Linked DNA regions of Homo sapiens. Each later gene encodes a partner of the first gene's protein in a complex. Each region holds a gene or a part of one and is shown in the gene's direction. Other genes may lie near its edges.

Region 1 (8,093 bases):
GTTGACAACTACCAAGTAGCACTGGGCTTTAGCAGAGAAAGGGAATTTATTACAGTGATAAAGGGATGCCTCCAAGAGTGGACAACCCACTGGGCCTTGGAAAGGGTCTGGAGCTGGAAGCCAGAAAACCATCAGGATTTCCCTGACTCTGCTCTTCTCACTCTCTCATTCCCTCTTTTTCTATACACTGGCTTTTGTCTACCTCTCCAACTCACCTCACAGAATATAGCCATGCGAAATCCCCCTTTCTTCCTAGTTTTAGCCAGCCTCAGAGACTAATTCCAACGCAACACGGTCAAATTAACAAATCGGGCCGGGTGCGGGGGCTCACGCCTGTAATCCTAACACTTTGGGAAGCTGAGGTGGGCAGATCACTTGAGGTCAGGAGTTCGAAACCAGCCTAGCCAACATGGTGAAGCCCCATCTCTAATAAAAACACAAAAAAATTAGCCCGGCATGGTGGCGTGCATCTGTAATCCCAACTACCTGGGAGGCTGAGGCAGGATAATTGTTTGAACTTGGGAGGCAGAGGTTGCAGTGAGCCGAGATCACGCCAGTGCACTCCAGCCTAGGCAATGGATCGAGACTCTGTCTCAAAACAAACAAACAAACAAAAAAAAAACAAAATCAGTAACTCACGGAGTCTCAGTTCACATTCTCAAGAGAGAATTTGATTGGTCCAACCTGAATCCTACGTCCACTGAAGAACGGTAGAACCCACTAGCCATGGCTGTGGGGGTGGGGCGTGCAGCACAAAGGTGGCTGCCAGGGACCCACTCTCTGGCTGGTCAGGCAGTTCCTAGAAAAATCAGACTGGGCAAAGATGCCAGCAATTATCCTTGACTGTGAGGATATTTCCTTTTGGAAAATCCAGTACCCAACTCACAAACAAAGTCCTTCCTGGTACTAAAATACCATGACAAACACTCCTATTGACTTAAAGGGGTTATTCCTCATTCAGCTTTGAACTCCCCACAATGCCTACCCTTTGTCTTCAATCCATGGCTGCTTCTGTATTTTTTTTTAATGTCTTGAAGAGCAACAAACTTTTCTAGCACAAGAAAATCTTTGCATATCATTACATATGTTAAAGGTAGATGGATGGCCAGGTGTGGTGGCTCACTCCTGTAATTCTAGCACTTTGGGAGGCTGAGGTGGGAGGATAGCTTGAGATCAGCCTAAGCAGCAAAGCAAGACCCCGTCTCTACAAAAATACAAAAGTTAGCCCAGTGTGGTGGCGCGTGGCTCTAGTCCCAGCTACTTGGGAGGCTGAGATGGGAGGATCATTTGAGCCCAGGATGTCAAGGCTGCAGTGAGCTGTGATCATACCACTGTACTCCAGCCTGGGCAACAAAGCAAGACCCCGTCTCTCTAAAAAAAAAAAAAAAAAAGGTGGTGGATGGAGGGGGAGAAAAGCCAGGCTAAGGAGGGATTGAAGAGGAAAGACATAAAATGCCCAAATGTTAGGGGTGTGTACCAACTGGATATTAGCCAGAAACTTGAATCATGGCCCTGAAAAGTCTAATACCAGTCAATGCAAAATGAGAATTCTACTTATAAAAGTGTGATTTATATAGTTTTTGATGTGTCTAAAGCATCACCAGCGTTCGTAGAGTTCCTGCCTAATTCCCCCATTCAGTCACCTTAAGCATTGACTCCACTCCCTGTGTTGAACAGAACTAATGGAGAAAGTAATCCACGTAAATGACAGAGGGAAAGAGAAACGATAGAGAATGATAGAGGACAAAACCTTAGATATGAGGGATATTTGAGATTTCTTACGCCAATAAATGTGAAAAATCAAGTAATGGGGCTTTGTTTTCCCAGAAAACGACAACTTGCCAAAGTTGACTCAGGAAGAAATAGAAAAAAAAAAAAAGTCATCAAAAGTCATATAATTTGGCAAAATGGAAAAATATATGCATATCTATATCTATATAGAGAGGGTCTCACTCTCTCACCCAGGCTGGAGTGCAGCACCTGAATCTCGGCTCACTGCAGACTTGACCTCCCTGGCTCAAAGGATCTTCCCACCTCGGCCTCCCAAGTAGCTGAGACTACAGGCACATGCCACCATGCCCGGCTAATTTCTTTTCTTTTGTTTTTTGGTAGAGACAAGGTTTCTCGATGTTGCTTAGGCTGGTCTTGAACTCCTGGCGTCAAGCAATCCTGCCACCTCAGTCTCCCAAAGTGCTAGGATTATAGGAGTGAGCCACTGAGACCAGCCTATTATTAATATTATTATTATATAATACTAGGGAAAGTATAAATATAGACCAGCAATTTCATTTCTAGTGTATACCCTAGAGAAATGTCCATACGTAAGACAAGGAGCCATGTGCAAGGATACTTCCTGCCATATTGTGTGTAATGACAAAAATTTAGTAACAACTTAAAAGTTGTACATGGCATGGAATGAATGAATTAGATCTATAGGCATCATAACAGACCTCAAAAACATAATGTTGGGCCTGGCACAGTCTCTCATGCCTGTAATCTTGGCTACTTGGGAAGCTGAGGTGGGAGGATGGCTTGAGCCCGGGAGGTCTAGGCTACAGTAAGCTATGATTGCACCACTGTACTCTAGCCTGGGTGACAGAGCAACACTCTCTTAAAATAATAATAATAATAATACTGTTGAAATGAGAAAAGCAAGTTTTAGGATATCAGTACAATGTGCTAACATTTATATAAGTGAAAAACATACAGATAACCATTTTAGATATTATTCATAAATTTTATAGTAAAAATGTAAGAAATTATTGGAAAGATACACATCAAATTCATGACAGTTATAGACAGGGGAGAATGGGAGGGGGACTTATTTCTATTTGCAATGGTCTAATAATTTCTATTTGTAATAGTGTGATCTATTTTTTATTTATTTATTTATTTATTTATTTATTTATTTATTTATTTATTTGAGACCGAGTTTCTCACTGTCGCCCAGGCTAGAGTGCAGTGGTGGGATCTCGGCTCGCTGCAACCTCCGCCTCCCGGGTTCAAGCAACTCTCCCGCCTCAGCCTCCCGAGTAGCTGGGATTACAGGCATGTGCCACCACGCCAGGCTAATTTTTGTATTTTTAGTAGAGACGCTTGAACCCAGGAGGCAGAGATTGCAGTGAGCGGAGATCGCACCACTGCACTCCAGCCTAGACAGCAAGAGCGAGACTCCACATCAAAAAAAAAAAAAAAAAAAAAAAAAAAAAAGAAAAGAAAAAAGAAAAGGAAAAAAATGCCACAATACTAAGTCATTAATTTAATGCCAGGTGGTGGCACTATGGATGATAATTTTTTTCTTTGTAATTTTTGTGCATTTTTGTTTTTAATATCTTTGCATATCCACACGGATAGGTATTTTAAAATACAGTCTGGTGAAAAATAACAGCCAATTGCAGATCTATATGAATAATGTGACAATATTTGTGTTCAAATCCATACACAATAAAAACAAAGCTATCTTCTATGGCTATATCTATATATATCCATATAGATATAAACATATAAATTCACAGCAAAAGATCTAGAAAGATATATAGTGTTTTAGTCCATTTTCTGTTGCTTATAACAGAATACCTGAAACTGGGTAATTTGTAAAGAAAAGGAAGTTATTTCTTACAGTTATGGAGTCTGAGAAGTCCAAGGTCAAGAGTGTGCATCTGGTGAGGGCCTTCTTGCTGGTGGGGGACACCTGCAGAGTTCCCAGGCAGTACAAGCCATCATATGGAGGGGGTGCTGAGCTGCTCCCTTGCTAGCTAAGGTCTCTCTCCCTCTTCTTATAAAGCCATCAGTCCCCCTCCCAAGATAACCCATTAATCCATTAACCCATTAATCCATGAATCCATGAAGAGATTAATCCATTCATAAGGGCTCCACCCTCATGATCTAATCACCTCTTAAAGGGCCCACCACACAATACTGCCACATTGGGGATTAAATTTCCAACACATGAAATTTGGGGGACACATTCAAACCATAGTTCATATTAAACAGATAATAATGGTTAGTTACCTCGGCGGAGGGGCCTAGGATGCGAGTCAAGGTCAAAGAGCATTTGTACCTTATCTGCAAAGTTTAAATATTTTGCAATAATTCGCGTGTTATTTGTGTAAGTAAAAATTTAAACATAATTTTTCAGAGACAACTGCCCAGACCAGCTCCAGGGTTTGGCCGTCAGATCCCCTGGTGCATGTTTCTGATCAGATCAATTTCTTCTCCCGGAGACACCCAATCCGGGTCGTATGGATTACCTGTGGGTTAACCAGGGGTCTCCGGGTTAACCATCCAACTCAGAGTAAAGTTTCTAAAAATGCGTTTTGCTCTAATACCTATTCGGAACCAACCTGGGTCTAAAGACTGGAGCAAGTGTTTATTTTCCAAAACACGGCTTTTTAAAATAATTCTATAGGGATCACCTTGAACACACGTTAAGCAAAAAAAAAACCTCAGCGAAAACGCCTCGCAATGTCCAGATTAAATGCAAAAGCAAAAGCATTAAGTAGCTTTCTGGCATAAACATATTGCAGCTGGGTAGCGTGGCCGAGCGGTCTAAGGCGCTGGATTAAGGCTCCAGTCTCTTCGGGGGCGTGGGTTCGAATCCCACCGCTGCCAGGGTTGCTGTCTTTTTGTCCCCGCTGCATACACTCCTGGCTCAGTTTTGCGCGTGCCATCAGCGCCCCCTGCTGCAGGGCGGGGCTCACGGCCTGCATGAATGGCGCGGCGGAGGGGGCGGAGCCGCGTGCACCGGGGCGGGGCATTGTGGGTAAGAGGAAACGCTGGGGCCGGCCCGCTCCCCCCCACGTGTCCGCCGGAGTTTCTCCACCAGCAACATGGCCGCCGCCTGAGAGGAGAGCCGGGCCGCCGCCGTCTCTGCAGCCCGCGGGTAACTGGGCCGTTGCCGCCGTCCGCGCTCGGCCCCCGCGGAGAGGTGAGTCCCGTCTTGGCAGTGCCCGAGCTGGGGCTTGAGCCGGACCGCACTCACGACGTGGGCCTGGGCTAGATTCCCGAGTAGGCCAAGGAGGCCCGCGCCGCGCTGTGCCTAGCAGCTGGAGGCCTCTCGGGACTCGGGCGGGGAGGAGGGGCAGCCGGCTCCAGGCCGACCCCGGACTCTGACTTCCTTGACCTGACACCTGGGAGTTGGGGAGGCCGCGGCCGACGCTGGCGGCGGTGACTCAGGGTCCAGCCGACCTGCCCTATCCGGGCCTGGGAGGCCTCCTACGGAAGAAACACCTGTCCGCGCGTCGGGTGTAGTGGCGGCTCGCGGCAGGGACTGCGTGGTGGGCGTGAGAAGGGGGGCCTGACCACCCGCGAGGGAGCAGAAACCCATTGGACAGCGAGGCTCGGGATCGGCGGCCCGCCCCGATGGGCAGGGAGGGCACCTGCGCCTGCCGGAGCCCCCACTTCGCAGCTGAACCGGATTAGCCTCTGCCCGGCGAGGCCAGGGATTCCTCATTCATTTATTCAGGCAACCATTCAGTGTTTACCGAGCCAACTCTGTGTTCCGGATACAGCCCTGACCATTCGGTCCGAGGAGGTGTCAGTAAACAAACAAGGTCGTTCCTTTGGGTTAGCTTTAGAATTCCTTGGGCTTGGAGGCGGAAAGAAGAGATCTTAGCGATCTCCACAGTTTCCTCATCTGTGAAATAGAGATAATAGAAATTCCTACCTCATAGGGTTGTGGTGACGGCTCAGTAGAAACCGGGTGACGCTCCTGCTTGCAGCGTTTGACTTGTGGCTTAGCGTCATTACCCGCTTACGTTGGCAGAAAACATGTTGTCAAGTAATAACAAACCTTCCCAGAGGTTACGTTTATTAGCGTCCTGTCCTTACTCCTTCCCCGCAGGGGTCTGGAGGTCGGTACTTAGTTTCCCTACTTTAGGGATGAAAATAGGGAGGAATACCAAACCCAGACAACTCAGGTGGGTCACAGATGCCAAGCAGCTGTGGTGGGATTTGAACCTGCACAGTTTTGTTCTCGGGTCCAAGCTCTTACCCACTTAACCATACTGCCGTTTATCAGAAAACCGTGCAGTATAGTGGTTAAGAATAAGAATAAGGATCTTTGACATAGCGAGACCCAAGTTTCTGTCCTCATTCCACCTTGGATGAGTTGCTTATATCTGAACCTCAGTCTCGTCATTTCCAAATTGAAGATGATAAATCTCTATTGATAGGGCTAATGAGAAGATTAAATATAAAGTATTCTTTGTACTATATTGAGTGTCAACTTCGTGCCAGGCACTGTTCTAGGTATTGAGAGAACCAGCACTGGATTTTTTTTTTAAAGTAATGCTCCCCATAACAGCTTTGATGAAGTAAAGTATGATTGTCTGCATTTCATAGTTGAGGAAACTGAAGCACTGAGAAGCCTTCATGGAGCTTACGTTCTATTGCAGAAGACAAACAACACCTGAGCAAATAGACCAGGTAGTTCCAGATTAAGATGAGACCCACCAAGGAAAGAAAACAGAGATGTGGTAGGGCCTGGGAGGAGGCTGGGGGAGGCTTTTAAAATAGGGTGGTCAGGGAACCTATCCTCTCCTGCAGGCGGTGATGATATTTAATAAAAAGGAGCAACCTTGGAAATCCCTGTGGGAGAATAGATGATGTGCAAAGGACCTGGGGTGGACTGGGGCTTGCCTTGTTGGAGGCCCAGCAAGTGGCTACCAGCCTGGATGGTGAGGGGAAGACAGAGACAAGATTATGTAGGGCCTTAGGTGGCTCATGGAAAGGAGTTTGGGTTTTATTTTATGTGACAGTGGCAGTTGACAGGTCTTAGGCAGGGAAATAATATGATTTACTTTTTTTTTTTTTTTTTTTTTGAGATGGAGTCTTGTTCCGTTGCCCAGACTAGAGTGCAGTGGCAAGATCTCGGCTCACTGCAACCTCTGCCTTCTGGGTTCAAGTGATTCTTCTGCCTCAGCCTCCCGAGTAGCTGGGATTACAGGCGTGCATCACCACGCCTGGCTAATTTTTGTATTTTAAGTAGAGACGGGGTTTCACCTTATTGGCCAGGCTTTTCTGGAACTCCTGACCTCAGGTGATCCGCCTGCCTCGGCCTCCCAAAGTGCTGGGATTACAGGTGTGAGCCACCGTGCCTGGCTTTGTTTTCCCCCCAGTAGAGATCGAGTCTCACACTGTGACCCAGGATGGAGCGCAGTGGTGTGATCATAGCTCACTGCAGCCTCAAACTCCTGGGTTCAACCAATCCTGCTGCCTCAGCTTCCCAAGTAGTTGGGACTGCAGGCCATGCCAGGCTAAAATTTTTTTTTAAAGAGAGACCGGGGGGCGGGGGGCGCCTCACTATGTTGCTCAGGCTGGTCTCGAACTCCTGGTCTCAAGCAGTCCTTCCACCTAAGCCTCCCAAAGTGTTGGGATTACCGGCATGAGCCACCATGCCAGCCTGATTTACTTCTTTCCAAAGACTCACTGTTGCTGGGAGACTTGGAGGTAGGTATAAGGAGCCGTAGGGAGACTTGGATGAGTGCTTTTCACATTGCAGGTTAAAATTTATTAGTGGGAAGTAAAATCAATTTAAGGGAATTGAAGCTAGCATTTTTTGTTTTGAATGAAGTAGAAAACATCACGGCCTGACATATAGTAGGGACAGTTATAGTTACGTGAAACCTTGTTTCAGTTATGCAACTGTATGTATGTTCTGGGTTATTTATATGAGATGGATTTCTTACTGTGGTGGATCTTAGGCTGAAAACTTTGAAAGCCACTGAGTTGGATCACCTCGGCCTGGAGGATGAAGGGAGGTGACACTCTTTGTATCAACCCAGATGTACTATCCAGAGGAAGGAGCTCCAGCTCTCTAGCTGACAGGGCACCTCAGCCTCCCTGATCCCTGGCAGGGCAGAGGCCAACAGGGCATAGCAATAGCCAAGAAAGAACAATTGCGTCTTGGGAACCTCCCAGGCCCCAGCCTCTCAGTTGTCCACTGCCCAGCTGCAGAGAAGGCAGGAGCTTGACATATCTGTGGCACTTGGCAGCCGGTGCAGATGGGGTGAGGCCTTGGGCTCTCCGCTCTACACTGCCCTCTGTCTGCACAGCAGACAGTCGAGATGCACTGAAACTGTCCAGATGCGACT
Region 2 (7,607 bases), on another chromosome or scaffold:
GAGGTCAGGATTTCAAAGCCAACCCGGCCAACACGGGGAAACCCCATCTCTACCAAAAATACAAAAATTAGCCAGGTCTAGTGGTGCAAACCTGTAATCCCAGGTATCTGGGAGGCTGAGGCACGAGAATCGCTTGAACCCAGGAGGCAGAGGTTGCAGTGAGCTGAGCTCGTTCCACTGCACTCCAGCCTGGGCTAAAGAGCAAGACTCCATCTCAAAAAAATAAATAAATAAAAATTAAAAGCTAATCTACCACAATCAAGTAGTCTTTACTCCTGGGATGCAAGGTTAGTTCAACATAGGCAAATCAATAAATGTGATTCATCACATAAACAGAATTAAAAACAAATACCACATATCAGGCCAGCCGCAATAGCTCATGCCTGTAACCCCAGCACTTTGGGAGGCTGAGGCAGGCAGATTGCTTAAGCCCAGAAATTTGAGACCAGCCGGGGCAACATGGCAAAATCCCATCTCTACAAAAAAGAAAAAAAAATTAGCCAGGCATGGTGGAACACACCTATCTACTACTACTCAGGAGGATATAGTGGGAGGACACATTGAGCCCACAAATTCAAGAACAGCCTGGGCAACAAGACAGAATAAATTCTGTCTCTATTTAAAAAGAAAAAAAGAGGCCGGGTGCAGTGGCTCACACCTGTAATCCCACCACTTTGGGAGGCCAAGGTGGGCATATCACAAGGTCGAGATGGAGACCATCCTGGCCAACATGGTGAAACCCCGTCTCTACTAAAAATACAAAAATTAGCTGGGCATGGTGGCACGTGCCTGTAGTCCCCACTACTTGGGAGGCCGAGGCAGGAGAACTGCTTGAACCCAGGAGGTGGAGGTTGTAGTGAACCGAGATCGCACCACTGCACTCCAGCCTGGTGACAGAGCGAGACTCAGTCTCAAAAAAAGAAAAAGGGAATATACTGTATATTTGAAAATTGCTAAGACAGATTTTAAGTGTTCTCACCACGCAAAAATAAGTATGTGAGGTAATGCATGTTAAATAGCTTGATTTAACCATTCAGTGTATACATATATCAAATCATGCTGAACACTATAAAAAATATAGTATACAACTTTTAGTTGTGAAAAAAACATGATTTATTAAATATTTCTCCCTTCTTCATCAACTCCCTCTTCCTTTTGCTACCTCACAGTCTTTGGAATTCTCAATCTGAAATGTACCCATCCCTCAAAACTCAATTTAAATCCCACTGGCCACACCAATGCTATGAAATTCCCCTCTCTGAATCCTAAAGCACATATCCTCATTCCCTTTATGCTGTTACTTTTTCTATGTTTGCCTTGTCTTTCCCCAAAAGCTGTAAGATCCTTAAGGGCAGGAGCCACATATCACTCCCTATCACCTCCAGGACACTCAGCAGAGAACCTTGGATATATTTAGGAAGAATCCGGTTATACTCAATTGTGTTAGGCCTCAATTTACAAATCAGATATGACAAATAATATATCACACCAAAAAGATCAAGAAACTTCTCCAGGCATTAACTAAGGCTTAGAAAAACACCTATTCAGCTTTTCAAATTATCCCTTTGAAGTAAGGACTTAAAGGTGAGAAGAAAAGATATAATCAATTGGGGAAGTTTAGACTGTCTTCTCACTCTTTTTTTTTTTTTTTTTTTTTTTTTGAGACAGGGTCTGGCTCTATTGCCCAGGCTGGAGTGCAATGGTGCGATCTCAGCTCACTGCAACCTCTGCTTCCTGGGGTCAGGCAATCCTCCTACCTCAGCCTCCTGAATAGCTGGGACTACAGGTGCATGCCACCACACACACGGCAAATTTTTTTATTTTTTGGTAGAGACGGGGTTTCTCCATGTTGCCCAGGCTAGTCTCGAACTCCTGAGCTCAAGCGATCTGCCTGCCTTGGACTCCCAAAGTATTGGGATTACAGGCCTGAGCCACCACGCCTGGCCAACTTCTCACTCTTAAAGGCAAAATAGTGAACAGCAACTTAAAGATCAAAAAAGCTAAGGATGGAATATTCAACAAGGCATCACATTCAACAACACACCACTGGTCACACACATACTGGCTGAATTCCAGACTCCCTCTCTATGGTAGAAGAGTTCTGCAGGCTCTGATGTTGGCTGGAAAAAAACTAGACACCTGCTCTTCCCAGCACTGAAATATGGCCAAAAAAAAAAACATAAACACACAGCAAAATCAGCAAACAAAGCTAAGTAGCATTTAGGCGGGGAGCAGTGGCTCACGCCTGTAATCCCAGCACTCTGGGAGCCCGAGTCGGGTGGATCACTTGAGGTCAAGAGTTCGAGACCAGCCTGGCCAACATGGTGAAACTGCATCTCTACTAAAAACACAAAAATTAGCCAGGGTGCGGTGGTCGTGCACCTATAGTCCCAGCTACCCGGAGGCCGAGGCAGGAGACTCTCTTGAACCCGGCAGGTGGAGGTTGCAGTCAGCCGAAATCATGCTCCTGGGTGATAGACAGAGGCTGTCTCAAAAAAAAAAAAAGAAAAAAGAAAAACAGCTAAGTAGCATTTAGATGAAACTATGACTCTGAAGTAGGGGGTGCGGCAAGTAGAGAGGAAAGAATGTATCATAATGCCTTAAACAAAACTTTTGAGTGAGAGAAGACTATAAAACACCCTTTAAGCACTTATTCACTGGACTCCATTTGTGTTTCTAAGAAATAAGATATACAGACTCACTTCAGAAGGTTTTCTCCTACACTGTATCTGAGACACCATAAATAGAAACATACATTATGTTGCCACTCTATCACAAGACTGAACCTGGACACTTGTAAGGAAAGGAACAACCATAAAGACAGTTGGCCAAGGACAGGATTGACATTCACTCTGGGGGAGCTCCTCGTAGTAGCTACAACCCAACCCAAAACAGTTTCTGGGTTTGTGATGCTGGTGCTGGCTAGTATGCTGCATAAATGTTGTTTGTTTTTGTAGAGAGGGGTCTCACTCTGTTGCCCAGGCTGGTCTCAAACTCCTGGCCTCAAGCAATCCTCCTGCCTCGTCCTCCCAAAGCACTGGGATTACAGACCTAAGCCACCGCGCCTGACCTACAAAAGTGTTTTCTTCCCAACCACAGCACTGCCTCTCAAGGGGCTAACACTCTGGCAGAAACTCGTGAAAACCAATTTCACGTCAGAGGAAGCATCCCCAACATTCTGTCCCGGCTCTTTTTCTTAGGTGAAGAAAGGGACAGGGCGGGGGGCGGAACAATGATATTAAAGACACTGGCAGCATGACAACCAAAATAAACGAAGTTGAAACAGTACGTCCTGCCTTCTTCCTAAAGCCATTTCCTTCAACAGTGATAGGAGTGCAGACCGTCTGCAAGTCATTAGTACGCTGCTGTCTTCACTGTCACAAGGACCCTGGAAACCACTGAAGAGCAAAATCCCCCTTTTCGCCCCACAGATACCTTCCAACCCCCTTTCTGTGCTTCCTTCCCTAGAAAAAACCGAAGAGTGACAATCCTCAGCAATCCGCTATTTCGCTTCACTGACAAGGGAGGTGGCGGGGGCGGTGGGGGGTGAAAAGTGGAAAAGAACACAGAGGAAGGTGAGAAGACACAGTGGAAGAAGTGTGGGGGGAGGTCATCGTAGGAAAAAGACCAGGTATAAAAGAATGCAAGAAAATTGAGGGGAGAGTTATCAGAGGGAAACTTGCTAAGAAAAAAAAAAATTAAGGACACGGGAGGTAAAGAGGTGAGGTCAGGTGGAGCAGCCCAGGATGAATTAAGAGGTGGGCAGGAGGTACGGGGCCGAGGCCGTGATGCCCAGGGTTTAGGGCCGGCGGCTTAGAAGTGGGCAGCAGGTATTCGGCAGACCGATGTCGGGCGAGTCAATGATGTGCAGAAAGCTCCAGACCCAGTTCCGGGAAATCGGGGCCAGGAATCTATGAGGTTCCCAAGTATAGAGAACACAGCGCTCTTACCGGTAGTTTGGGGCTGACCTCGCCCTTGCAAAAGTGGCAGAAAAACCGGTGGGCGGCTACAGCGGCGCCCGAGTCCGCCCCGGCCGCCGAAGCCTCCGCCATTTTTGCCCTCCGCCGCGGCCGTCCGAGAGGGCAGCCGGCCCGTCCCTCGCCAGGCCGCTACCTCCCGAGCTGCAGTCGTCGCCGCCGCCGCCGCCTCGGTGCGGCCCACCGCTTCAGAGCCCGCGTCGGTCACGTGAGTTGGCCAGGCCCAGAAACGCGGCGGCGCCAACAGCTACCCTGCGGCCCGCCTCCCAGCACCAAAGAGGCGCAGGAAGGAGAGACAAACGGCCCGCCCGCCGGCTCCACAAACAGCCCCTCGCTGGTCCTCCAGTCTTCCAGCGAGAAGAAAGAAAGAGCGTCCCCGGAAGCCGCCGAAACTCTGGGGTAGAGTGGCACGCGCTTTTTGCTTTTCCGCGTCTTCTTCGGTGGCGATCCGCGTCCTAGAAAGGGCGGTGGGCTCCACCTCGGCCTAGAAGGCCAGCGGGAGCCGTAGGAAGCCGTCGCGGGAAGCTCAGCCGAATTGGAGTTGGAGCCCCCGGATTGCGCTGACCCTGAGGTTAGTGGAAAATGCTGTCTGAACGTGGCGGCACTGACTGGACCAAGAGACCACGTCCGAAACGGGAACCTGTGTAAAGGAAGTGTAGAGCTAGGAGCCAAGCGCCTTGGAAGCCCTTTCCGAGGATGGCAAAGGATCTGGGAATGCTTCTCCAAAGATATGTGGATGGACGAAATAGGTCTCTGGTGATACTGAGGCGGGGTGGGGACGGGGAGGCAAAGACTTGGCTTCTTAGGAATTGGAAGAAATAAGTAAACAATGTTTGGTAGCAATTTGTAATAAGGAAGTAATCATAAAATTAACTACGTCCGTTTCTGATTGTGTCAACTTTGTCAAGGAGTAGAAGTTTAAGAATTGAATACTGTCCTGCAAACAACGTAACCTCATCTCCTGTTTGACACACCCTGTTGAGAAGCAGTCCTTTACCTCCTAAATTTCTTTTTCGAAATTATCATTTCCTTTATGGACTGAGAATAACACTGCCTGTTCACTCCCACCGAGCTGTGAACAGTGACCTTAATTCTTCCAAGCAGTGAAGTGTAGAAACTAAGGTCTGTGACAGACCGCAAAATCATCTCCCAATCTTTAAGGAAAATCAGAATCACGCATAATCCCATAGAGATAAATTTGATGCATAGTCTTTTCCTATGCATACATTTTTCCTTTTTTTTTACAATAATTGAATTTTTATATTTTTTCAGCTTGCTTCTGTCACTTAATATATTATGAGTAATTTTTTTTGTTTTTTTTTGTTTTGGAGACAGAATCTCGCACTGTCGCCCGGGTTGGAGTGCAGTGGCGCGATCTCGGCTCACTGCAACCTCTGCCTCCCGGCTTCAAGCGATTCTCCTGTCTCAGCCTCCCTAGTAGCTGGGATTACAGGCACCCGCCACCACGCCCAGCTAATTTTTTTGTGTGTTTTTAGTAGAGAAGGGGTTTCACTATATTGGCCAGGCTGGTCTCAAACTCCTGACCTCATGATACGCCCACCTCGGTCTCCCAAAGTGCTAGGATTACAGGCCTGAGCCACCGCGCCAGCCTATTATGAATAATTTTCTACATGAATACGCATCGTACTAAATAACTTTAAATGTTGGTGTAGTATGCCATTGTATGGGTATGGCATCATTTATTGTTAGACGTTAGATTGTTTCCACTAAGTCGGTATTATAAAGAGAACTAATGACTTCATTATTATTAGCTTTTTCTTTCTTTGGACACAATATCCAAAAAGAAATTGTTGTTTCAAAGATATGCAAGATTTTTAAGGCTTTTTGATATGTATTGTCAAATTGCCCTCCAGAAAGAATACATGAATTTACACTCAGCAGCTCTGCTTCCAGCGTGAAAGACTTTCTATTGTACCATTTTGGTGTTTTTTCCCTAGCTCTCAGACTCCCCAGTACAATGACTCAAGCAGAAATTAAGCTCTGTTCTTTGTTGCTGCAAGAGCATTTTGGAGAGATTGTAGAAAAAATTGGAGTCCATCTGATAAGAACCGGCAGCCAGCCACTAAGAGTAATTGCCCATGACACAGGAACATCACTGGATCAGGTATGTCTAAATGACATTCATTTTCTCTCATTTCTTTCACTAATTTATTTCACCCACCTTTGAATATTGTTCTTCTCACCCCAGAAAAGGAAAAATGAAGAAAGCCTGCCCTTGGAGCAGAACAATGTTATTTCGGGGAGAAAAGGATGAGACTTAGACATCAACATTTTGTTTCTCAAAGTGTTCCTAGTTCATCACAGCTTTTAGGCAAATCTTTGCTCTTCCCATGCCGTACCTCATTTATTCACAATAAGTCTATTAATCTCAGTACTGCCTTTAAGGAATGAGAATGATGAAAGTAAATTGTGTTTTGAGAGATAAGGATCAGAGGAAATATAGCAAGGAATCTTCCTGATTTATTGTATTGATGTGTGATTCTTATTAGCTCCTCCAGTGGAGAGAGGAAATAAGTGCAGAAATTATCTAGCCATTTTCTGATGCTTACTAAGCTGTTGGACAAAAAATTGCCAGCAGTAATGAGCTATATCTTCAGGTCTTTCCTCTCTTTCTTCTCTTTATGTTCCATTTAGGTGAAGAAAGCCCTGTGTGTCCTCGTCCAACATAACCTGGTGAGTTATCAAGTGCACAAACGTGGTGTGGTGGAGTATGAAGCCCAGTGCAGCCGGGTATTGCGAATGCTTAGATATCCCCGGTACATCTATACTACCAAAACTCTGTACAGTGACACTGGAGAGCTGATTGTTGAGGAGCTTCTGTTGAACGGCAAACTGACAATGTCAGCTGTTGTGAAGAAAGTGGCAGACCGGCTCACAGAGACCATGGAGGGTCAGTATGGTATCCATAGCTGTTAACAAAAGCATAGATCAGCTGGCTATGGGAGTGAACCCTGAGCTATCTTAGGCCATCTCATCTGCCTTTTTCCTCCTGTTATACAGATGGCAAGACCATGGACTATGCTGAAGTATCAAACACATTTGTGCGACTGGCAGACACACACTTTGTACAACGCTGCCCTTCGGTACCTACCACTGAGAATTCAGACCCTGGGCCACCACCACCTGCCCCCACACTTGTCATTAATGAAAAGGACATGTACCTGGTTCCTAAACTCAGCTTGATAGGTAAGGAATTTTAACCCCTGGAACTGTGACTTGCCTTAATTGTGGATTCTTCTTGATTGTCAAGTGTATGAAATGTGATTGTATTTACCAAGTATTTGCTATGTGCCAGACATCGTGGTGTATAACAATGAAAAAATCATGGTCTCTGCCATGGGGCTTTAGTATAGGAGACATACATTAATCGGAAAATCACATCGATATATCATTAAACGGTGATAAGTACTATGAAGGAAATATTCCTATGAAGGAACTGTCATAGTATTATGAGACATGCATTAATCAGAAAATCACATCAGTATATAATTAAACTGTAATAAGTGCCATGAAGGAAAAGTATGAGGTGTTATGAAAATATATAATGGAGACTTTGGGAGACTGAGGCAGGCGAATTGCATGAGGCCAGGAGTTCGAGACCAGCCTGGG
Region 3 (7,423 bases), on another chromosome or scaffold:
CTGCTGTGGGTCTGAGATGTAGAATGGCTGTGGTGGACAAGCCAGGAACTGCGTTTTTTTTAAGAGGCTGCCCAACCACTCCATTTCTTAAGGAAAAAGAGACCTTGCCAGTTTGATCCTAGTTAGTGTGGACTTAGGGACCACAAAACACTGGAGGAGATTTCATTCCTCCTCTAGGGTTTTGGCTGATGACTTGGCGGCTCTCCGACTCCCCTGATGTCCAGGCCATTCTGGCCATTGCTTCCCTGTAGGCGTTGTTGCCAACCAGATGTTGCATAAAAAACATGAAATTCAGCATGTCTCTGGTGAACATTCTCTGTCCCCACGCCCACCCTTCACCCTGCTCTTGCTTCCTCTCTTTCTGGGTGAGGGGAGCATGTGTGCGCTGTCCCATCAGCTCCCTTCCTTGCTCATCTCCTGGCCTGGCCTCCCACGCCGGAAACCTGCAAGCCATTCTCTTCCTTTCATCTCACAGTCAGGGAGTCCCCAAGTTCTGTTGCTTCTGTCTTCGTTCTTGCTTCTCTCCCCCGTGTACTGCGTTGATTTCTGCCATTATTTCTTCACGCGGCTCTTGCGGTTATCCTCTCCCCATTCTCCCTGGCTCCCCAAGTCCATCTCCCACATCACCGTCAGAGATCACATCTAAAACCATGAATGTGATCCCATTTCCCTGCATAAACCGTTTATTTAGTACAGCCTCATCACTTGTGAAGTCCGCTTTGTACTGAGAGCGTAGGCTTTGGAATAGGAGGAGGCAGCCAGAGTAGAGGGGCCTACGATGGGATAAGGGGCCCGGGAAATGATCCAGGGAGATACCCGGGCCACCACTGGGCACGCTGTGGCCGCTGCCTTCTTATTACAGGGCAGAGAGCATCGGTACCTGACAAGTGTTAAGCAGGCCGTCTAATTGCCAGTTTAAAAAAAAAAAAGAAGAAGAAACTTTAGAGAATTAACAAAATGAGAATAAAGCAGTTTCCAAAGTCAGTTTTAGAAATACTTAGCTCTTTGTCAAATTTCCTTTAGAAAAGTATGGAAGAAAATGGTCAAAAATACGATTTTTAGAGTTGCTAATGGAAAAACTTTTTAAAAGGCCACAGGGTATTTAATTTTTTACTAAATTGTTCATTGTCTTCCTAGGGTTGTTTTTGCCCTTCAGAATGTACCCAAAATTAAATTAGAACAGTTCCTTTCATGAAGGGTGCCTTTCTCTGGGAACCCGCCTGTAGGCTAAATAGAAACCCCTTTCTCATGTGTCCTGATTATTTTCATGCTTTACACTGTATTGGAGTTTCAACCTAGAGCTTAGAGGAGAGAAAAAACAAACAGAACAGCAAGAAACGAATCCCTGTCCCTCTGGGTTAAAGATCATATGTCATGTCTCCTCCAGCTTTAATCAGCAACATATGTTACTCATGGCTTAATGACAGGCAGAGAGAAGAGATGAGGATTAGTGTGACCTCAGCCAGAGCCTGTGGAAAGTGGTATCATTACTTGGGGGAAGATTTGCTGCTATTGAGAGTGCCTGGGGTGGGCCGGGCGCGGTGGCTCATGCCTGTAATGCCAGCACTTTGAGAGGCCAAGGTGGGCAGATCACCTGAGGTCAGGAGTTCAAGACCAGCCTGGCTAAAGTGGTAAAACCCCATCTCTACTAAAAGTACAGAAATTAGCTGGGCATGATGGTGCACACCTGTAATCCCAGCTACTTGGGAGGCTGAGGCAGAATCACTTGAACCCGGGAGGCCAAGGTTGCAGTGAGCCAGGATTGCACCACTGCACTCCAGCCTGGGTGACAGAGTGAGACTCCATCTTGGGAAAAAAAAAAAAAAAGAGTGCATGGGGTGTGCCAGACACGGTCTCAGTCCTTGGTCCTGGTGCCTGTGATTGTCTGTCACTTCGAATGCCCGCCCCATAGTCTTGGAAGGGGGCAAGTGTCCTCTCCATTTTAGCCCAGAGGGCTGGTGAGTGGCTGATTGGGACCTTCTGATTCAGAAGCTTTACTTTGCTCCTCCAAGCCAGGTACTTGTGCTTGATGAGAAGAAAGATGTGTGTGGCATCCCCTGAGATGGTTTCCTTCTCGTTTCTACAAAGTAGGTAGGCCTTGGTAGAAACTGCTGTTTCTCAGTAGTTGGACCATTTTATAGCCAGATTCTTCCCACTCTGGAATTTGGCTACAAAAGGTAGCAAATTGTTTACCAAGGTTTGTAGCAGTATCGCTTCTCACCAGAGTGAATAAGAAATGAAAGCTGTGGCCGAACATGGTGGCTTGCGCCTGTGATCCCAGCACTTTGGGAGGCCAAGGTGGGAGGATTGCTTGAGGCCAGGAATTCAAAACCAGCCTGGGCAACATAGTAAGACCCCATCTCTACAAAAAATGAAAAAAATTAGCCAGGTATGGTGGCGCACACCTGTGGTCCCAGCTACTCAGGAGACTAAGGTGAGAGGATTGTTTGAGCCCAGAAGTTCAAGGCTGCAGTGAGCTATGATAGTGCCACTGTACTCCAGCCTGTGTGACTGAGCAAGAACCTGTCTTTTAAAAAAAAAAAAGCAAATGGCTGGGCACGGTGGCTCACGCCTGTAATCCCAGTACTTTAAGAGACCGAGGTGGGTGGATCACCTGAGGTCAGGAGTTTGTGACCAGCTTGGCCAACATGGCGAAACCTCATCCCTACTAAAAATACAGAAATTAGCTGGGCATGGTGGCGGGCACCTGTAATCCCAGCTACTTGGGAGGCTGAGGCAGGAGAATCGCTTGAACCTGGGAGGCGGAAGTTGTAGTGAGCGAAGTGTAGTGAGCGTGACTGCACTCCAGCCTGGGCGACAAGAGCGAAACTCCTTCTCTAGAAAACAAAAGGAAATAAAAGGTTTCACTTACAGTGGCAAGCACAAAGGACTTGAGTGAGAAGTTCCCTATATTAACACTAGAGCCATTTTTTCTCCCTGGGTTCAGAAAACAGTCCCAGCATCCAACATTTATTAGCATTCACTTGGAAGCCAGGTGTCTTTTGGAGGCTGAAGCCTCACCTCTTCAGTTACGCCTGGGCTGTGATTTGCTGTGGCCCTCTGATGACTGCCTGCTGACTCAGAGGCTCGGTGAGGAAATGAGGTGGCCACCCAGCTTAGGACTTGTTGTGCCCGGTTGTGTATTGATTTGGAATGATTTGTGAGCCCTCCGGCCTGAGGTCAGTGAATCCTGTGACCTCACAGGCCACTGCCCTGAACAGCACTACCATCTAGGCCTGTTAGTGATTTCGTGATTATGAAGTCTTGACTCATATAGAGCGTTATTGCTTGTAAAACACTGTTACATGTGTTCTCCTTTTGTCCTCGCTGTAGGCGTTACTTTCATTTTACATTAGAGAAAGTTGAAATTTAGAAAGCCAGATTCAGTGAACTGTTCTGGATCAAATATTTAATAGTATACATTGTTGCTATCAGATCTTTGAATCATTTTGAGGAAAGTAGGACTTTAGGTTTGGCGACTTCAAGTTGCCATTTTTGGAGGTCGGCAACCCGGTTTGATGCTCCTGGGATTGAGATAATAAATGTATCATTTATGTTAACCCAGCTGTTGATACTTTGGATTTTTAAGTTTTATTTCCCCTTATGTTCTCAACTACCTGAAATGGTTGGTATCTGAGAACCTTGAGATGGTGCTTTGAACTTTACTTCTTTATTTGGACTGTTTCTCCTGTGTTGGAAAGAAAAGGTGAAAGGCCGGACACAGTGATTCATGTCTATAACCCCAGCACTTTGAGAGGGTGATGTGAGAGGATCACTTGAGCCCAGGAGTTCAAGACCAGCCTGGGCAACCCCATCTCTACAAAAAATAATAAAAAATAATTAGCTGGACATGGTGGCACATAGCTATAGTCCCAGCTACTTGGAAGGCTGAGGCAGGAGGATTGCTTGAGCCCAGGAGTTTGAGACTGCAGTAAGTGATGATTGCGCCCAAAGAATAAAGCAGGGAAAGGAGGGAAATAGCCAAGATTTGATTATTTAACCTGGAGAAAAGATGATCTCCGTTTGAGAAAATAATGTGCAGAAAAGAATTTTGCTAAGTTCACTAACGGCCGGAGCTTTTATCAACATCCAATCCTCCTTAATTACAGTCAAGACCTTTTTTTTCAACCTAAGGTTCCCAGTCACAGGAAGAAACCCTAAGCTGCATTAAACTAAATGAAATATAAACAAAAAAGAAACTTTCAGAAATAAAAAACTTACTAGCACGTCTTGGATCACTAGGATAAATGACAATGACTACATTATCCCTCACCCCCACCTTTTTTTTCCCCAAAGAGAGTGGGTCTTACTCTGTCACCCAGGCTGGAGTGCAGTGGCACGATCTTGGCTTACTACAACCTCTGCCTCCTGGGTTCACACCATTCTCCTGCCTCAGCCTCCCGTGTAGCTGGGACTACAGGCGCACGCTGCCACGCCCAGCTAATTTTTTGTATTTTTAGTAGAGACGGGGTTTCACTGTGTTAGCCAGGATGGTCTCGATCTCCTGACCTTGTGATCCGCCCACCTCAGCCTCCCAAAGTGCTGGGATTACAGGCGTGAGCCACCGCACCCGGCCCCATGTCTGATTTTAAAAATGGGTTTTTGGCCGGGCGCGGTGGCTAACTCCTGTAATCCCAGCACTTTGGGAGGCCGAGGTGAGTGGATCGCCTGAGGTCAGGAGTTCGAGACCAGACTAACCAACATGGAGAAACTCTGTCTTTACTAAAAATACAAAATTATCTGGGTGTGGTGGTGCATGCCTGTAATCCCAGCTGCTAGGGAGCCAAGGTCATGCCATTGCACTCCAGCCTGGGCAACAAGAGTGAAGGGGGGGAGTTGAAGATTGTTTCTTTCTCAGAAGAGAATTTACATTTTCCTGAGCCATGGAATCTTTAGAAAATGGTCATTTTATTTCACAGCATCATAGGGAGTAGCCCCCATTGATTCACTCAGGATCTCCCCCATCCTGGGACACCAGGATTATTATCTAGTTGCAGAAACACTTTTGGGCTGAAGTGAGTGGAGAGACCAGGGTTTTGCCAGGAGTTCGTGGTGTGACCTTGGGCGTGTCACATGACTTCCTGAACTGTGCTGTTGTCTGTAAAGGGAGGTGGTCAGACTGGGATCCTCTCCAGGATTGCAGGCCTGTCTTATTATCTTGTTTTACTTCAGTCTGCCAGGATTTCTTTCTGGAACTCCCTGTGGTCCCAGTTGCCGGATTTCAGAGATTGCTGTGGGGAATGCCATGGAATAGAATCTGGCCACCTTGAGCTGAGAAAGGTGTTTGTGATTGATGGTTGATGCCACCAAGCAAACAGGGTTAAGCAACTTGACTGCCTGCCTGCTGCTTTTAAAAAGGCAGCTGACGACCTAATTCTGTTTAGAATTAGGGGCGAAGCTAAGGAAACTGGCTCAGGCTGTGAGTATCATCTCTAGATTCAGATTTCTGGGACCACATCAGAAACCAGGTTTTATGTGGACCTTTGATGGGCAGTGTGGTGTGCAACGTGGGGGACTGTGGGTTTTAGACTGGGCAGTTCTGGCTGGGGATTCCAGTTCTACCCCTTAGCAGCATTGTTGGGAGGACGAAAGGAAATGCCGGATGGGAAGTGCAAGATGCAGCTCCAGACACATGGGAGGCCTCCCTGCAGGGCTGTTGCTAGTGGGAGTGAGGATTAGAAGAAGGCTCCAAACCATTTGGCACATAGTGGGCATCATCAACCGTGTTGCTGATACAGTTCATTAAATTACAGATGTGTGCCTGGCACAGTGGCTCACGCCTGTAATCCCAGCACTTTGGGAGGCCAAGGTGGGTGGATCACAAGCTCAAGAGATTGAGACCATCCTGGCCAACATGGTGAAACCCCGTCTCTACGAAAAATACGAACAGTTAACTGTCTGTGGTGGCTCGTGCCTGTAGTCCCAGCTATTCGGGAGGCTGAGGCAGGAGAATTGCTTGAACCTGAGAGGCGGAGGTTGCAGTGAGCCGAGATTGTGCCACTGCACTCCAGCCTGGCGACAGAGCAAGACTCTGTCCTGCCCCCCCAAAAAAAAAATTACAGATGTGCTTGTGAAATATAAAAGTACATAAAGTGCCATTTAACTTCTTCGAGATGCATATGCAACCTGTTCACCACTTCTCTCTGTGTGTGTGTGTGTGTGTGTGTGTGTGTGTGTGTGTGTGTGTGGTTATATAACTTAGCTTTTTCCTTTTTTTCTTTTCTTTTTTTTTTTTTTTTTTTAGACAAAGTCTTGCTCTGTCACCCAGGCTGGAGTGCTTGGCTCGACCTCCTGGGCTCAAGTGATCCTCCCACCTCAGCCCCCCAAGTAGCTGGGACTATTGGCACACACCACCATGCTTGGTTGATTTTTTTTGTTTGTTTTTAAGAGATGGGGTTCCTCTGTGCTTCCCAGGCTGGGGGTTTTCCTTTTCTTTAAAGAAAAATGCTATCCTACAACTTGGTTTTTACTGACCCATTTTGATCAGTCGCATTGGCTCAGTCCAGGATGTGACTTGGCTCCACCCTTCCGTCTGTAAGATGGAGAGGACTCACGAGGACCCAGGCTGTGAGGTCTGTGTGCCAGGAGGCCGGGCTGAGACCATGAGCACAGTGGGCAGGGCTGCCCAAGGCTGTAAGTTTCATTTGTAACCCTGGAGGATTTTCTTTCCTTCTGCAGATGGTGGAAGAGAGTGAAGAGCGGCTCACGGAGGAGCAGATTGAAGCTCTTCTCCACACCGTCACCAGCATTCTGCCTGCAGAGCCAGAGGCTGAGCAGAAGAAGAATACAAACAGCAATGTGGCAATGGACGAAGAGGACCCAGCATAGAAGAGCACAGCTGGCCCCGGCGTTTCATGAAGTCAGAAGGCCTGGCAGCCATTTCCTGGACGTTGAGAGGATTGTTTATTTGATTTTTATCCTCATCCCAGCAGGCCTGGCTTTGTGGTTAGTTGGGTACATCACAAAAATAAGTTAAAAAGAAATATTTGTGCCTTGGGGAGAAGAAACATGGTGAAAACAGGCTGAGGTTGTCAGGGCAGAGAGCTGAAGGTGGGGACAGTGACCGCGGACCCCTCTGTGCTTGAAAGATTTCCTCCACGGCCTTTGCCCCAGTTGTGGGGAGGTCTCTGTGCACAGCGGGGAAAATGCTTGTGTCGCCTTTGGTGGGCCATGTCCTAATTAGTTTCATCTGCTTCCCTGGGAACTTACTAAGGGGCCCAGAGCACTGTTGGAAGTCTGGTTAGAGTCCCCAGAGAGTTACTCTAAGTTAAAATGAGCCACTGACCTTGGCTCACCTTAGAGGAATTTCCTCGAGAACAACAGAGATAAGAAAAGAACCGGCCTGGCCAATCCTTCAACAGCTCTAGAGCCCCTTTTCTCTGCTGGCAGGGGCTTTGTTTACCAGCTCACTGTTTAGGCTAAA
Region 4 (7,327 bases), on another chromosome or scaffold:
TTGCACCACTGCACTCCAGCCTGGGCGACAAAGCGAGACTCCGTCTCAAAAAAAAAAAAAAAAACTAAAAAAGCTACTACCTGGTGAACTTCAAAGCCCAACAGAATGAAATCAAAGCTATTTCATCCAGTGCTCTAATTAGAAGCTAAGGGCTGCTGCGTGTAGCTCTGTAGGGAACAGGAAAAGGGTATTGGTTTGGTTTGATTATTGTAAAATCAACATGAAGAAAGAAGTTGAAAAGGATCTGTTTAGAAAACAACATAACAAAATATTAATATATTAGTAAATTGGCAAACAAAGTTCTAAATTTTAAAAGCCAATACTCAAAAGGATGTGGCCAAAAAATTATATATTCTCTTTTTTGTTTTTTTGAGACAAGGTCTCCTCTGTCTCCCAAGCTGGACTGCAGTAGCACAATCAAGGCTCACTGCAGCCTTTGACTCCTGGGCTCAATCGATCCTCTCTCCTCAGCCTCCCAAGTAGCTGGGACTACAGGTGGGTGCCACCAAGCCCTAAAATTATATATTCTTATATACTACCTCTCTCTCTGTGTGTGTGTGTGTGTGTGTGTGTGTGTGTTTACACACACATTAATTTCGGAGTCAATAAAAGTTGTTTTTTGTTGTTTTTTTTTGAGACGGAATCTTGCTCTGTCTCCCAGGCTGGAGTCTACACTCCAGCGCAATCTCAGCTATCTGCAACCTCCGCCTCCCGGATTCAAGCTATTCTCCTGCCTCAGCCTCCCAAGTAGCTGGGACTACAGGCACATGCCACCACGCTAGGCTAATTTTTGTATTTTTAGTAGAGACGGGTTTTCACCATGTTGGTCAGGCTAGTCTTGAACTCCTGACCTCGTGTTCCGCCCACCTTGGCCTCCCAAAGTGCTGGGATTACAGGCGTGAGCCACTGTGCCCGGCTCTTTTTTTTTTTTTTTTTTTGACACAGAGTTTCGCTCTTGTTGCCCAGGCTGGAGTGCAATGGCGCAATCTTGGCTCACTGCAACCTCCTTCTCCCAGGTTCAAGTGATTCTCCTGCCTCAACCTCCCGAGTAGCTGGGATTACAGATGCCCGCCACCAGGCCTGGCTAATTTTTGTACTTTTAGTAGAGACAGGGTTTCACCATGTTGGCCAGGCTGGTCTTGAACTCCTGACCTCAGGTGATCCACCCACCTCAGCCTCCCAAAGTGCTGGGACTACAGGTGTGAGCTACCACACCTGGCCAATAAAAGTTCTTTAAATTCCAACGGTAGAGCAAACTTGGTATTCAGATTCCTTCCAGGTTTGACCAAAAGTGCACATGAGGGTCACTGCTGTGAGCCCAGGAAGGGTGGGACTGGGCACCGGTTGATCCAATGTGGCTGTTCCAAGGCTGCCCACACAGCCTCACCCAGGAGTCCTTCAAAAGCCCACAATGTGTGTGTGTGTATATAGTGTGTGTGTGTATATACGTTTGATTATTGTATATACACACATTCTTAGTGTTGATGCATTTCAGCACAATCTTGTTTTTTTGTGGGGTTTTTTTTGTTTTTGTTGTTTTGAGACAGTCTCCCTCTGTCACCCAGGTTGGACTGCAATGGCGTGATCTCAGCTCACTGCAACCTCCGCCTCTGTGGTTCAAGCGATTCTTGTGCCCCAGCCTCCTGAGTAGCTGGGATTATGGGCGTGTGCCATCACGCCCAGCTAATTTTTGTATTTTTAGTAGAGACAGTATTTCACCATGTTGGCAAGGCTGGTCTGGAACTCCTGACCTCAAGTGATCTGCCCACCTCGGCCTTCCAAAGTGCTGGCATTACTGGCGTGAGCCACCACGCCCGGCCACACAATCCTTTTTGAAAGCAATTTAGCAATATGAATGAAGAACCATAAAATGTGCATGTACAAAATGGTACAGCCCCTGTGGAAAGCAGCTTGGCAGTTTCTTATAAAACTAAGATACAACTACCATATGACCCAATGATTGCACTCATGGGCAATTATCCCAGAGAAATAAAAATTTACGTTCACACAAAACCTTGTACATGTATTTTCACAGCAGCTTTATCCATAATAACCCCAAACGGAAAACCACCAGATGTCTTTCAAAGGGTGAATGGTTAAACAAACCATGAATACTCTGCAATAAAATGGAACGAACTATTGATACACACAACTTGGATGATCTGCGGGGAACAATGCCGAGTGAAAAAAGCAATCCCAAGAAGTCACATACTGTATGATTCCATTTATGTAACACTTTTGAAATAACAAAATGGCAGAAATGGAGAACAGATTAGTGGTGGGAGGAGGTGGGGGGAGGGAGGTGTGGCTATAAAAGGGCAACTAGAGGGATCCTTGTGGTGATGGAAACTTCTTGTATCTTAACTGTACCAATGTCAATATTCTGGTGGCAAGAGGTTACTACTGGGGGAAAACGAGTAAACAGTACTTGGGATCTCTCTACATTATTTCTTACCACTCTACATGAACCTACAATGTTCTCAAAATAAAAAGTTTAATTTAAAAAATGTTTTTAGAGATAGGGTCTTGCTGTGTCACCCAGGCTGGAATGCAAGGGCTGGATCATAGCTTACTGAAATCTCCAACTGCCGAGCCTTTCAAGCGATCCTCCCACCTCCGCCTCCCAAAGCACTGGGATTACAAGCCTAAGCCACCGTGCCTATCGCAAATATTTACTTAAAAAAAAATCTTCTTTTGGCCAGTTATCCCAGGACGGGAAATCTATCCCGGGAATATAATCCAAAAGAAAACAAAAACAAAAACAAAATCGAAAAAAAGCAAGTCAAATGTACCAGACATTCACTGCAGCATTATTTAAAACAGGGAAAAAAGAAACAATCAGGGAAATACTTAAATCATGATACAGCCACTGGAGAACTACGCAGTCTTTGATGTCGCAACAGAGAAATGTTATTTGAAAAAGGAGGATACAGGCCAGGCGTGGTGGCTGATGCCTGTAATCCCAGCACATTGGGAGGCCGAAGCGGGTGGGATCACTTGACCTCAGGAGTTCAAGACCAGCCTGGGCAACATAGTGAAACCCCGTCTCTACGAAAAATACAAAAAAAAAAAAAAAAAAAAAAAGAAAAAGAAAAAATTAGCCGGGCGTGGTGGCATGCACTTGTAGTCCCAGCTACTCAGGAGGCTGAGGTGGAAGCATGGCTTGAGCCTGGGAGGCAGAGGTTGCGGTGTGTTGATCGCACCACTGCACTCCCGTCTGGGCAACAGAGAGAAACCTCGTCTCAAAAAAAAAAAAAAGAAAGAAAAGAAAAGAAAAAGGACACGAAATTGTGATACGACAACTCTGTGAAGACTACTAGATACATTACAAAATTTTTAATAGTAGTACTCTACGTGGCATTCTGGTAGAAATGATTTCCTTTCCTCAAACTCCCCATAATATTGTTACATGGTTTTTATACGGTCTGGGGGATGGGGGATAACATTAAATGACACCTTTTATGTTAAATCACAAACGCTGGAGTCAACAAAAGTTCTTTAAATTCCTCCAGCAGTAGAGCAAACTTGGTATTCCAATTCCCTCCAGGCTTTGACCAAGAGCGCACACGAGGGCCACCGCCTTCGTGATCAGAAGCGGGTATGACTGGGCACCGGTTGGTCCACTGCGGCTGTTCCAAGCTGCCCCCACAGCCTCACCCCAGGACTCCACCAGGAGCACAGGGAAGGGGTCCCCGAAAGTGGGCGAGGTCGCTGCCCGGAGGTAATGACCACTCCAAGGTCACCATGGAGAACCCGCAGACAGGGCTCGGTGTGGCCCAGGACTCCCCGACTCTTAAGTCCAGGTCTCACTCTCTGCGCCGCGCCGCGCCCCTCGCCCCATCCCGAGCAGCTACCCCGAAGCTCCCAGGGGCTCCGCCGAGGCGAATCCTCACATTGCGGCGTGGTGGCCGACAAAACCCGGGACCCTGATCTTGGCGCCTCCACGCCACCGCCCGGAGGCCAAGACCCCCGAGCGCCGCAGCATAGCGTAGCCCAGACCAGTCACCTCATCCTTTTTCGCCCTCTCAACCCAGCTTTTCCCGACTCCGGGAAGAACCGGGAAGAGAAGGCGGAGGGGAGCGAAGCGCCGCCTGATAAATACTGTGGCCCAGTCCCGCCCCCCTAACGTCACTTCCGCCCCGCGCCAAGATGGCGGCGCCCAGGCCCTGCCACGCAGACTTCCGCCCGGCGCGGAGACCGAAGGCTGGCGGCTGGTCGCGTTGCAGGTGAGGTTGTGACGCGCGGTGTGGAGCCGCGGCCCGGGTGCGTCCCTGTCTGGTTCCTGGGCGGGGTTCCTGGAGAGGGCGTGTCGCGAGCCAAAGGCTCTCACCTGGGTGGTCCCGGGAGTCTCGCCACGTGGGAGGGGAGGAGCTGAGAGGCCACTGGAGGGACGCACCGACTGGGGGACCGGAAAGCAAGGGGGTGGGGTTCCGCCAGGGTCCGCGTGTCAGTCCCCTCTGGTGATCTCGTCGCCCCTTCTCTCCCAGGCAACATGTCGGAAGGAAACGCCGCCGGCGAGCCCAGCACGCCGGGAGGGCCCCGACCTCTCCTGACTGGGGCCCGGGGGCTCATCGGGCGGCGGCCGGCGCCTCCCCTCACCCCCGGCCGCCTTCCCTCCATCCGTTCCAGGGACCTCACCCTCGGGGGAGTCAAGAAGGTACCCAACGGCGCGTTTCTAAAGAAACTCAACTACCTTGAATTCCAAGCCCCAGGATTCAACTAATGTTTGTGTAGGACCTACTGTGTGTCAGGACTGTCGTTGGGCCTCTCAAGCCTACCCCTCTTTAAATTCTAGGGAGTCTGTCCTACCTTCAAATCTAGGTACTGAGTACAAGATGTTGAAATGACTCCCAGAGGTGGTTGAAGGGCAGAGAATCCTAATAAGTTAAAGTCGTTCAAAAGCAATTTGAACAGTGTTTATTTACTTTTATTGTGTGTTTGGACATCTTTAAGAAACCCATGAAAGCCAGACAGGCATAAACTTCGCAGTCTTAGAGGGTTCAGAATTCACCATCTCTGTGTGCAAACTTTTTATCTAGAGTATGATGAATCCTAGGTATGGCATTCGAGGCTCTGTGGCCTCTCCCATGTGTATATGACTGTGGATGTCAAGAGTAGCCCAGAAAGGGGTGGGGTCAGGATGACAGAAGAACAAAGCAGGTTTTGGTTTTGGTTTTGGTTTTTTTTGAGAGGAAGTCTCGCCGTTGTCCCCCAGGCTGGAGTGCAATGGCACGATCTCAGCTCACTGCAACCTCTGCCTCCCAGGTTTGAGCGATTCTCCTGCCTCATCCTCCTGAGTAGCTGGGATTACAGGCGCCCGCCACCATGCCCAGCTGATTTTTGTATTTTTAGTAGACACAGGGTTTTGCCATGTTGGCCAGGCTGTTCTTGAACCCCTGACCTCGTGATCCGCCCGCCTGCCTCGACCTCCCAAGGTGCTGGGATTACAGGTGTGAGCCACCGCTCCTGGCCGAATAAAGCGGTTTTTTGGTTTTTTGTTTTGTTTTTAAGGGAATCTCTTTCTGTCGCCCAGGCTGGAGTGCAGAGGCACCATCTCAGCTCACTGCAACCTCCGCCTCCCGGGTTCAAGCGATTCTCCTGCCTCAGCCTCCCGAGTAGCTGGGATTACAGGGGCCCGCCACCGCGCCCAGCTACTTTTTGTAGTTTTTAGTAGAGACGGGTTTCACCATCTTGGCCAGGCTGATCTTGAACTCCTGACCTCGTGATCCACCCACCTTGGCCTCCCAAAGTGCTGGGATTACAGGCATGAGCCACAACGCCCAGCCATAAAGCAGTTTTTAAAAACCTAACTTTGCCTTGGAAAATTGTGGTGACAGTCCATAGTCACCTGATTGAAAGTGTTGGCAGATCTATGGCCTTCCCTACTTAGGCCTTGCTGCTAGAGCTGTTCCCCCATGATACTGACTGGTCTCTATAGCAGTTTGAAGAGAAGAGGTGAGACCAGAGAAATTCCTTTGCTTTTAGAAGTCCCAGAGGATCTTCTTTCAGAGGCAGAACCTAAGGCTGCTGGTTAAAAGTGGGTTTTGGTGCCCCCTTCTATGTGTAACTCCACTGCTACCACACTATGACATTCCTCCTTTTCAGGCACATGTGTATCTATAAAACTGACAGCACTGTGGAATGTGCCAACGAGAGCCGTGGTGGCCTTGGTCTGTAGAAGATGCCCTTTGGGAATTTTTATTTTCCTCTGTACTTTGGGGTCAGAACCTAACACATCAGTGACTCCTGTATTTTGCTTTCAGAAAACCTTCACCCCAAATATCATCAGTCGGAAGATCAAGGAAGAGTAAGTAGCTAGGCCTTCTGAATACTTGCCCCTTATTTACTTGCTCTGAATTTGGGGCTTTGGGGGAAATAACTAGGTTTGTAGCTCCAAAATTTAAATTTATATCTTTAGTTCTTTTCACTAGTGATTTTCAACCCTGGCTCCTAGGTGATTCTGCAAGCTTTAAAAAATAAATAAATAAATAAATAATTACTGGTGTCTAGGGTTCCATCTTTAGAAATTGTGATTTAACTTGCTGGCAGTAGAATGGAGTGATTCTCTTTGTTGCCCGAGTTGAGAGCCAATAGTTTAAACAAAGATGTATCACACTTTCCCTGAAGTTCCTTTGCATTTCTGCCTTCCTGCTTTCAGTCCCAATGCAAACAAAAATCTATATTTTTGGACAAGAAGGTAAAGTAAAGCAAACTGAAAAAATCCTGCCTCATCAAGGAAGTGAGAAAAGTGCTAGAATTAGGATTGGATTCTGCTTCTCATGGTGTAAATATTGGCTCAAACTCTCCACTGTTTTGGAGTGAAGTGGTATGGGAGAGTAAGGCCAGATTTTGGAGACACAGTGAGTGAGTGGTTTCCCTTAATCCATTCTTTTTTCCAGGCCCAAGGAAGAAGTAACTGTCAAGAAGGAGAAGCGTGAAAGGGACAGAGACCGACAACGAGAGGGGCATGGACGAGGGCGAGGCCGTCCAGAAGTGATCCAGTCTCACTCCATCTTTGAGCAGGGCCCAGCTGAAATGATGAAGAAAAAAGGTATAAGGAAGGAATCAGTGAATTTCAGTTCAGACTGCCCCAGAGAAGGGCGAGAACAGTGGAATTTCCCCACTCCCATTTCCGTTTTCCTTGCTGTTGGGCATCTTCCTTATCGATCCCTAGTGACCTGGGTGATTTCCCACAGGGAACTGGGATAAGACAGTGGATGTGTCAGACATGGGACCTTCTCATATCATCAACATCAAAAAAGAGAAGAGAGAGACAGACGAAGAAACTAAACAGATCTTGCGTATGCTGGAGAAGGACGATGTGGGT

What was found.
Region 2: POLR3E (region 1) and POLR3C share a complex: the UniProt entries of both Homo sapiens proteins name them as parts of the RNA polymerase III complex.
Region 3: POLR3E (region 1) and CRCP share a complex: the UniProt entries of both Homo sapiens proteins name them as parts of the RNA polymerase III complex.
Region 4: POLR3E (region 1) and POLR3D share a complex: the UniProt entries of both Homo sapiens proteins name them as parts of the RNA polymerase III complex.

The regions. Positions count from the first base shown.
Region 1 is NC_000016.10:22,292,611-22,300,703, forward strand, and holds the start of POLR3E (DNA-directed RNA polymerase III subunit RPC5), read left to right. Parts: upstream 1-4,798; 5' UTR 4,799-4,927; intron 4,928-5,810; exon of another isoform or gene 5,811-6,426; intron 6,427-8,093. UniProt on the Homo sapiens protein: DNA-dependent RNA polymerase catalyzes the transcription of DNA into RNA using the four ribonucleoside triphosphates as substrates.
Region 2 is NC_000001.11:145,819,822-145,827,428, forward strand, and holds the start of POLR3C (DNA-directed RNA polymerase III subunit RPC3), read left to right. Parts: upstream 1-4,378; 5' UTR 4,379-4,548; intron 4,549-4,623; exon of another isoform or gene 4,624-4,707; coding exon of another isoform or gene 4,708-4,726; intron 4,727-5,935; coding exon of another isoform or gene 5,936-5,955; coding exon 5,956-6,102; intron 6,103-6,632; coding exon 6,633-6,888; intron 6,889-6,998; coding exon 6,999-7,184; intron 7,185-7,607. Other genes in the region: E3 ubiquitin-protein ligase RNF115, read right to left, coding at 3,951-4,052. UniProt on the Homo sapiens protein: DNA-dependent RNA polymerase catalyzes the transcription of DNA into RNA using the four ribonucleoside triphosphates as substrates.
Region 3 is NC_000007.14:66,145,530-66,152,952, forward strand, and holds part of CRCP (DNA-directed RNA polymerase III subunit RPC9), read left to right. Parts: intron 1-6,678; coding exon 6,679-6,828; 3' UTR 6,829-7,423. UniProt on the Homo sapiens protein: DNA-dependent RNA polymerase catalyzes the transcription of DNA into RNA using the four ribonucleoside triphosphates as substrates.
Region 4 is NC_000008.11:22,240,958-22,248,284, forward strand, and holds the start of POLR3D (DNA-directed RNA polymerase III subunit RPC4), read left to right. Parts: upstream 1-4,175; 5' UTR 4,176-4,226; intron 4,227-4,487; 5' UTR 4,488-4,492; coding exon 4,493-4,657; intron 4,658-6,263; coding exon 6,264-6,307; intron 6,308-6,899; coding exon 6,900-7,051; intron 7,052-7,196; coding exon 7,197-7,321; intron 7,322-7,327. UniProt on the Homo sapiens protein: DNA-dependent RNA polymerase catalyzes the transcription of DNA into RNA using the four ribonucleoside triphosphates as substrates.